Linked DNA regions of Homo sapiens: region 2 is linked to region 1. Evidence: fine-mapped expression QTL. A gene starts in region 1. The other region holds a variant in brackets. All regions are shown on one strand. Distances are from middle to middle.

Region 1 (4,252 bases):
GCCAGGCATGGGAGGCTGAGGTGGGAAGATTGCTTGAGCCCAGGAGTTCAAGACCAGCCTGGGCATCCTGGTGAGACCCCATCTCTACAAAAAATTACAAAATTAGCTGGTATGATGGTGCATGCCTGTGGTCCCAGCTACTTGGGAGGCTGAGGCAGGAGGGAGGATCAGTTGAGCCCAGGACAACCTAGGTGACAGAGTGAGACATGGACTCTAAGAAAAACAAAAGTTGTATATTTGAAAACACTGACTGTAAATAGAATTAAGTCTAATATGGCAGATTTAAAAACAAAGATAGAAATGAAGTCAAGACAAAAATAGCATATGAGTCAGGAAGGTAATGGATAAAATCAGAGCATTGAAAGTGAGGCAGGATAGGTAGTCAAGGAAGTAACCATGTCCTCGGGATGCAGCAACTGTTGTGACTGTGCAATCAGCACAATAAGCCTCTGCCTTCACATTGTGGTTAAGCTCTTTCAAGCAAAACTATCTTCAGTAGAGAATTTCCCCTGCAAAGAGCATGTACATTTTGATTTTACCTGTCCTCAGACTGACCTTTCGCTCATTATAATAGTAAAAAACAGAGCCCTGGTTGGAGGTTTAAGATGCTAATAAGACATGTGACATGTACGAACAATCATATACCAGCATGTAGAACAAGCATTGTATGACAAGAAGCATTGTATGAACAAGCATGTAAGAACATACAGCTACCGCACATGTGCACTCAGAGGACCATCCAGAACATACTCACTAGTAGCACCTCTTCCCAATTCCTTATGAATAATCATGTAAGACCCCCATAAAGGGAGTCTCCCTCATGCGTCTTTGCTGCCCCAACCTTATGAGCAGCTGGCCCTCAATCCTCTCTCTCTCTCTCAGGGTGTACTGTCTATTGTTCACTTAACTTTCCAAATATTCTTTCTCCTTTGTAATAAATTACTGTATGCCGCATCTCCTTTACTGCGTGTCCCGTTTAAATTCTGCGTGTTTTTTTTTTTTTTTTTTTTTTAGATGGAGTCTCGCTCTGTCACCCAGGCTGTAGTGCAGCGGTGCGATCTTGGCTCACTGCAAGCTCCACCTCCCGGGTTCATGCCATTCTCCTGCCTCAGCCTCCCGAGTAGCTGGGACTACAAGTGCCCGCCACTATGCCCGGCTAATTTTTTGGTATTTTTTAGTAGAGACGGGGTTTCACTATGTTAGCCAGGATGGTCTCAAACTCCTAACCTCGTGATCCGCCCGCATCGGCCTCCCAAAGTGTTGGGATTACAGGCGTGAGTCACCGCGCCCGGCCAATCCGCCGAATTTTGGGAGTAATGTATCACACTGCAGTAAATAACTATCAGTGATGACCAAACTGTAACCCTTCGAGACCTTGCAGACCAGGCAGCTAACACTTCCCACCCCACCGTCTCAGGAAACACCGCTTTCCACTCCTGTGTCCCCGAAAGGAATCATCAGACATCTCGGACTCTTACCTTCTCAAGCAACACAACCCACCCTCCTGGCATAGCCCGTTGCCCCCCTGAAACCCTACTCAGCCTCACCTCAACCCCTACGCAATTCCTCTCGGTTGTCATGCCTCCATCGGCGGGGGTCGAGTGTTGTGTGTGACCCCAGGTCTCTAGCAAGGTATAGTGGGAGGGAAGCATCCAGGGGAAGAGAGGTGGTGGGATGGGGCTCTCCCTCTCCCCCATACCGCCACCCTCCCTCACGTCCATATCCTGTCCAAGGCTCTTCCCGCGTCTGCTTCTGAAACCCCTCCACGTCCCTCCACCCCATGTGCCCCACTCGTTACACAAGAGCAGAGAGATCTGCAGAACATACGTCTACGATTATGCCACTCTTCAGATTTACATCTTGCAGCGACTTCCCACTGCGTTAGAACGGAAGTAAGCCCATGACGGGGGCCCTCCCAACTCTCAGACCTCACCCGAGCCTCCACGTCCCGAGACGCCGGCCTCTCAAACGACCGCGCCCTGACCCTCGCTCTTCCCCATTTCCCAGGGTCTTTGCCGACCACCCTCTTGCGCCGTAGCTGCTCACGTGCTGTTTACTTGCTTTTCCCTCCCCACCAAAAGGTGAGCCTTGAGAAGACACACCCTCGTGGAGAGCTTTGAACTTTTATCCGGAAAGGTGCCGGGCACGTAGTCAGCGCCCGCGATCACTCGCTCACAAGGGTTCTTCCGAGACCCCTCTTCAGCCTCTTCCCCGAACCCCCAGGCCCCGCCCCAGCCCCATCTCAGCTTCGTCCCAGGCGCGTCCCAGCTTCGCCCCGTCCCAGCTTCATCCCACCCCAGCCGCGCCCCGCCCCGCCCGCTCCCCGCCCCGCCCGCGCCCCGCCCGCGCCCCGCCCCGCCCGCGCCCCGCCCGCGCCCCGCCCGCGCCCCGCCCGCGCCCCGCCCGCGCCCCGCCCGCGCCCCGCCCGCGCCCCGCCCGCGCCCCGCCCGCGCCCCGCCCGCGCCCCGCGGAACCTAGAGTCGCAGGCGCGTTCTTGAAGGACGGAATTCGGCGTCGGACTCTGCGCCCCGCGTAGTTCCGGTGGCGACTGCGGCGCATGGCGGTGAGCGGTGTGGAGAAGACGCGCGGGTGGCTGGGCCTTGCATTGTTGGCGGCTCTCGGTGACCCTCGTGCTACCCCCCTTTCTCCAGGCCCTGGGACATCTTGCTGGGGAGGCAGCGGCGGCCCCAGGCCCGGGTACTCCCTGCGCGTCCCGCGGAGCCCGGCTTCCCGGCCCAGTTTCCAGCGCCCGGAATCCTTCCACTGTCTGTCTCTGCCCAGAGCAACCTACGTGCAGTAACGCTGACTCCAGAGCGCACCCGTTGGGCGATGAAGGCGGCACAGCGTCGAAAAAACAAAAGAATAAGAAGAAAACGCGGAACAGGGCCTCTGTGGCAAATGGAGGCGAGAAGGCCTCAGAGAAACTCGCCCCAGAAGAAGTTCCCCTAAGCGCTGAGGCCCAGGCAAGGGCGGGCTTCGGTCGGGAAGGGTGGAATCCACGGGTGCGAATCCACGGGCACGTGTGATCTGGGGTCCGCGGAGTTAAGGCGGGGAGGGGCATGGGATGGGGCCGGCGGCTATGGTTTTCCAGTGCCCTCTCACAGCCACTTCCCCAAATCCATCACAGGCACAACAGTTGGCCCAGGAATTGGCTTGGTGTGTGGAGCAACTGGAGCTGGGCCTCAAGAGGCAGAAACCCACCCCGAAACAGAGTAAGGGACCCTTCTGTAGAGCTGGGGGATGTGAACAGTGGCACTGCCTGGCCTGCAGGTGCTGGCAGAGTATGGAGTTGTTGGCTTTGCGGCGGGGTGGTAGGAGGTCAGTAATAGAGGTGTTCACTAGTCCTTTATTTTTATTCGCAGAAGAGCAGGCTATTGGAGCAATCCGAACCCTGCGCAGCAAAAGAACGCCCTTGCCCCGGAAGAGGCAGCTGATGCACTCCTTGTTTGGAGACTATAGGGCTCAGATGGAAGCCGAATGGCGTGAGGCCCTGCGGGCTCTCAGAGCTGGTGAGGAGCTAGCCACTGGTTGATTCAGGAAGGCCTAACTTAAGGAGGAAGTGTCTAGGGGGTGAAAGGAAGAAGGCCCAGAGCAACAAGCCTGGTGGGGGAAGGAGATGGGCTCAGGGAAGCCTGAGGGAGCAGGGAAACAGAAAGCGTGGACCTCTCTTTCCTCTTCCTAGGACTGAACCTGGGAAGCAGCGGGGAGGCCCTGGGAGGAGTGGGAAAGAGCATGGTCCTATGTTGGTCCTGCTCCTGGGTTGGGGAAAGCTGCCTCATGTCTTTGTGTCTTGGCTTTCTCTACTAGCAATGAAGCCATATCCCATAACAGTTTGAGTGCAATTCCTGGGGCCAGATCAGCTAGGTTCAAATCCTGGATCTACCACATAGTAGTACTAACACCTTTTGCAAACTACTGAACCTCTCTAAGTGGGGGATGATAGTAATATCAACCTTACAAATTTGAGGAATTAATCAGTTAATTTATGCAAGGTGGTTAGAATTGTATGGGCAAACATAACTGTACAGGTAATGTTAATTGTTATTATTCAGTTCTGACATACGCTGCTTCTCTCCCCGACAGCTGCTTATTCAGCCCAGGTGCAACCTGTAGATGGAGCCACCAGAAAGAAGAGCCAAAGGGTCTGCAGGCCTCGCTCTATATGGAGAGCCAAAGCCACTCTGGACATGCCTGATGAAGAGTTTAGGTTCAATTTCTTTTAGCGTCTCCCCGAACCTGAAACAATCCCCCT
Region 2 (4,252 bases), 63 kb before region 1:
TGATGCTGGCCTCATAAAATGAGTTAGGGAGGAGTCCCTCTTTTTCTATTGTTTGGAATAGTTTCAGAAGGAATGGTACCAACTCCTTTTTATACCTCTGGTAGAATTTGGCTGTAAATCCATCTGGCCCTGGGCTTTTTTTTGGTTGGTAGGCTATGAATTACTGCCTCAATTTCAGAACTTGTTATTGGTCTATTCAGGGGTTTGACATCTTCCTGGTTTAGTCTTCTAGAAGACTAAACTAAATTTATCCATTTCTTCTAGATTTTCTAATTTGAGTAGAGGTGTTTATAGTATTCTCCAATCATAGTTTGTATTTCTGGGGGATCAGTGGTAATATCCCCTTTATCATTATTTATTGTGTCTATTTGATGCTTCTCTCTTTTCTTGATTAGTCTAGCTAGCGGTCTATCTATTTTGTTAATTTTTTCAAAAAACCACCTCCTGGATTCATTGATTTTTGAAGGGTTTTTCCTTTCTGTATCTCCTTCGGTTTTTCTCTGATCTTAGTTATTTCTTGTCTTCTGCTAGCTTTTGAATTTGTTTGCCCTTGCTTCTCTAGTTAATTGTGATGTTAGGGTGCCGATTTCAGATCTTTCCAGCTTTCTGATGTGGGCATTTAGTGCTATAAATTTCCCTCTTAACACAGATTTAGCTGTGTCCCAGAAAGTCTGGTACATTGTCTCTTCATTCTCATTGGCTTCAACGAACTTATTTCATTCTTAATTTCATTATTTACCCAAGAGTCATTCAGGAGTAGGCTGTTCAATTTCCATGTAGTTGTGTGGTTTTGAGTGAGTTTCTTAATCCTGAGTTCTAATTTGATTGCACTGTGGTCTGAGAGACCGTTATGAATTCTGTTCTTTTGCATTTGCAGAGGAGTGTCTTACTTCCAATTATGTGGTTGATTTTAGAATAAGTGCCATGTGGCACTGACAAGAATGAGAAGAATTCAAGTCCTGAATATCTTTAATTTTAAAGGATGCTGGCTGGGTGTGGTGGATCACACCTGTAATCCTAGCACTTTGGGAGGCCAAGGTGGGCAGATCATGAGGTCAGGAGATCAACACCATCCTGGCTAACACGGTGAAACCCCTTCTCTACTAAAAATACAAATAAATTAGCTGGGCATGGTGGCATGCACCTGTAGTCCCAGCTTCTCAGGAGGCTGAGGCAGGAGAATGGCATGAACCCAGAAGGCAGAGCTTGCAGTGAGCCGAGATTGCACCACTGCACTCCAGCCAGGTTGACAGAGTGAGACTCTGTCTCAAAAAAATAATAATAAATTAAAAAAATAAATAAATAAAGGATGCTAATTTTCTGTCTTGTTAATCTAATATTGACTGTGGGGTGTTAAAGTCTCACACTATTATTGTGTGGAAGTCTAAATCTCTTTGTAGGTCTCTAAGAACTTGCTTTATGAATCTGGGTGCTCTTGTATTGGGTGCATATATATTTAGGATAGTTAGCTCCTCTTGTTGCATTGATCCTTTTACTATTATGTAATGCCCTTCTTTGTCTTTTTTGATCTTCATTGGCTTAAAGTCTGTTTTATCAGAATAGTACTGCAACCCCTGCTTTTTTTGTTTTTGTTTTTGTTTTTGCTTTCCATTTGCTTGGTAAATATTCCTCCATTCCTTTATTTTGAGCCTATGTGTGTCTTTGCATGTGAGATGGATCTCCTGAATACAGCACATGGATGGGTCTTGACTCTTTATCCAATTGGCCAGTCTGCATCTTTTAATTGGGGCATTTAGCCCATTTATGTTTAAGATTAATATTTTTATGTGTGAATTTGATCCCGGCATCATGATGCTAGCTGGTTATTTTGCACATTAGTTGATGCAGTTTCTTCACAGTGTCATTGGTCTCTATATTTTGGTGTGTTTTTGCAGCGGCTGGTACCAGTTTTTCCTTTCCATATTTAGTGCTTCCTTCAGGAGCTCTTGTAAGGCAGGCCTGCTGGTGACAAAATCCCTCATCATTTGCTTGTCTGGAAAGGGTTTTATTTCTCTTTTGCTTGTGAAACTTAGTTTGGCTGGATATGAAATTTTGGGTTGAAAATTCTTCTTTTTTTTTTTTTTTTTTTTTTGAGATGGAATTTTGCTCTTATTGCCCAGCCTGGAGTGCAATGGTGCAATCTCAGCTCACTGCAACCTGTGCCTCCCAGGCATGTGCCACCATGTGGCTAATTTTTGTATTTTTGTATTTTTAAGTAGAGACAGGGTTTCTCCATGCTGGTCAGGCTGGTCTCGAACTCCTGACCTCAGGTAATCCGCTCACCTCAGCCTCCCAAAGTGCTGGGATTACAGGTGTGAGCCACTG[C/T]GCCCAGCCCAGTTCTTTTAAGAATGTTGAATATTGGCCCCCATTCTCGTCTGGCTTATAGGGTTTCTGCAGAGAGATCACCTGTTAGTCTAATGGGTTTACCTTTGTAGGTGACCTGATCTTTCTCTCTGGCTGCCCTTAGCATTTTTTCCTTCATTTCAATATTGGAGAGTCTGATGATTATGTATCTTGGGTTTGATCTTCTTGTGGAGTATCTTAGTGGTGTTCTGTGTATTTCCTGAATTTGAATGTTGGCATATCTTGCTAGGTTGGGGAAGCTCTCCTGGATAATATCCTGAAGTGTGTTTTCCAACTTGGTTCCATTTTCCCCATTGCTTTCAGATACACCAATCAATCGTAGGTTTGGTCTTTTCACATAGACCCATATTTCTTGGAGGCTTTGTTTGTTCCTTTTAATTCTTTTCTCTGTAATCTTGTTTTCATGCCTTATTTCAGCAAGGTGATCTTCAATCTCTACTATCCTTCTTCCACTTGATCAGTTCGGCTATTGATACTTGTATATGCTTCAGGAAGTTCTTGTGCTGTGCTTTTCAGCTCCATCAGGTCATTTATGTTCCTCTCTAAACTGGTTATTCTAGTTAGCAGTTCCTGTAACCTTTTACCAAGTTTCTTAGCTTCCTTGCATTGGGTTACAACATGGTTTTTTTTTTAGCTCAGAGGAGTTTGTTATTACCCACCTTCTGAAGCCTACTTCTGTCAATTCATCAGTCTCATTCTCCATCCAGTTTGGTGCCCTTGCTGGAGAAGAGTTGTGATCATTTGGAAGAGAAGAGACATTCCGGTTTTTGGAATTTTCAGTGTTTTTGCACTGTTTTTTCCTCATCTTCGTGGATTTATTTACCTTTGATCTTTGAGGCTGATGACCTTTGGATGGAGTTTGTGTGTGTGTGTGGGGTCTTTTATGTTGATGTTGTTATTGTTGCTTTGTGTTTGTTAGTTTTTCTTCTAACAGTCAGACGCCTCTTCTGCCAGTCTGCTGCCGTTTGATGGAGGTCCACTCCAGACCCTGTTGACTTGGTTATCACCAGTGGAGGCTGCAGAACAGCAAAGATTGCCACCTGCTCCTTCCTCTAGAAGCTTTATCCCAGAGTGGCACTGACCTGATGCCATCTGGAGCTCTCCTGTGTGAGGTGTCTCTTGAGCCGTTAAGAGGTGTCTCCCAGTCAGGAGGCATGGGGTTCAGGGACCCACCTGGGGAGGCAGTCTGTCCCTCAGCAGAACTGGTGTGCTGTGCTAGGAGAATCCCCTTTGTCAGGATCAGCTCCTCTCTTCACAGCCAGGCAGGAAAGATTAAGTCTGCTGAAGCTGCGCCCACAGCTGCCCCTCCCTCCAGGGGCTCTGTCCCAGGGAGGTGAGAGTTTTATCTGTAAGCTCCTGACTGGGGCTGCTGCATTTCCTTTAGAGATGCCCTGCCCAGTGAGGAGAAATCGAGAGAAGCAGTTTGGCCATAGCTGCTTTGCCGCACTGTGGTGTTCCGCCCAGTCCAAACCTCCTGGTCTCCTTAGCACCGTCAGGGGAAAACCGCCTACTAAAGCCTCAGTAATGTCAGAAGATGCTCCTTCCCCCTCCAAGCTCGAACATCCCAGGTTGACTCCAGACTACTGTGCTGGCAGTGAGAATTTCAAGCCAGTGGTTCTTAGCTTGCTGGGATCCATGGGAGTGGGACTCGCTGATTGAGACCACTTGGCTCCCTGGCTTCAGCCCCCTTTCCAGGGGAGTGAATAGTTCTGTCTCACTGGGATTCCAGGTGCCACCAGGGTATGAAAAAAACTCCTGCACCTAGCTCGATGCCTGCCTAAACAGCCGCCCAGTTTTGTGCTTGAAACCCAGGACCCTGGTGGTGTAGGCTCATGAGGGAATCTCCTGATCTGCAGATTGTAAAAACCATGGGAAAAGTGTAGTACCT

Evidence for each region. PIP is the estimated chance that this variant, and not a neighbour inherited with it, causes the effect.
Region 2: its variant is the best candidate, but not a certain one, in a credible set for the expression of C8orf33 in whole blood (TOPMed, PIP 0.69).

Annotation. Positions count from the first base shown.
Region 1 is chr8:145,049,935-145,054,186 of GRCh38, forward strand. It overlaps C8orf33 (chromosome 8 open reading frame 33), which reads left to right and starts at 2,533. Exons shown (of 5, transcript NM_023080.3): 1 at 2,533-2,563; 2 at 2,652-2,963; 3 at 3,128-3,212; 4 at 3,363-3,509; 5 at 4,084-4,252. The coding sequence starts at 2,558. The coding sequence ends at 4,223. RefSeq lists enhancers at 1,959-2,088, 2,129-2,178, 3,107-3,907 and a silencer at 2,389-2,458.
Region 2 is chr8:144,986,753-144,991,004 of GRCh38, forward strand. It overlaps the pseudogene ZNF252P. Among named protein-coding and RNA genes, the nearest start is that of ZNF252P-AS1, 14 kb to the right of the region's middle. The variant C/T (reference allele first, on the strand shown) is at 2,326.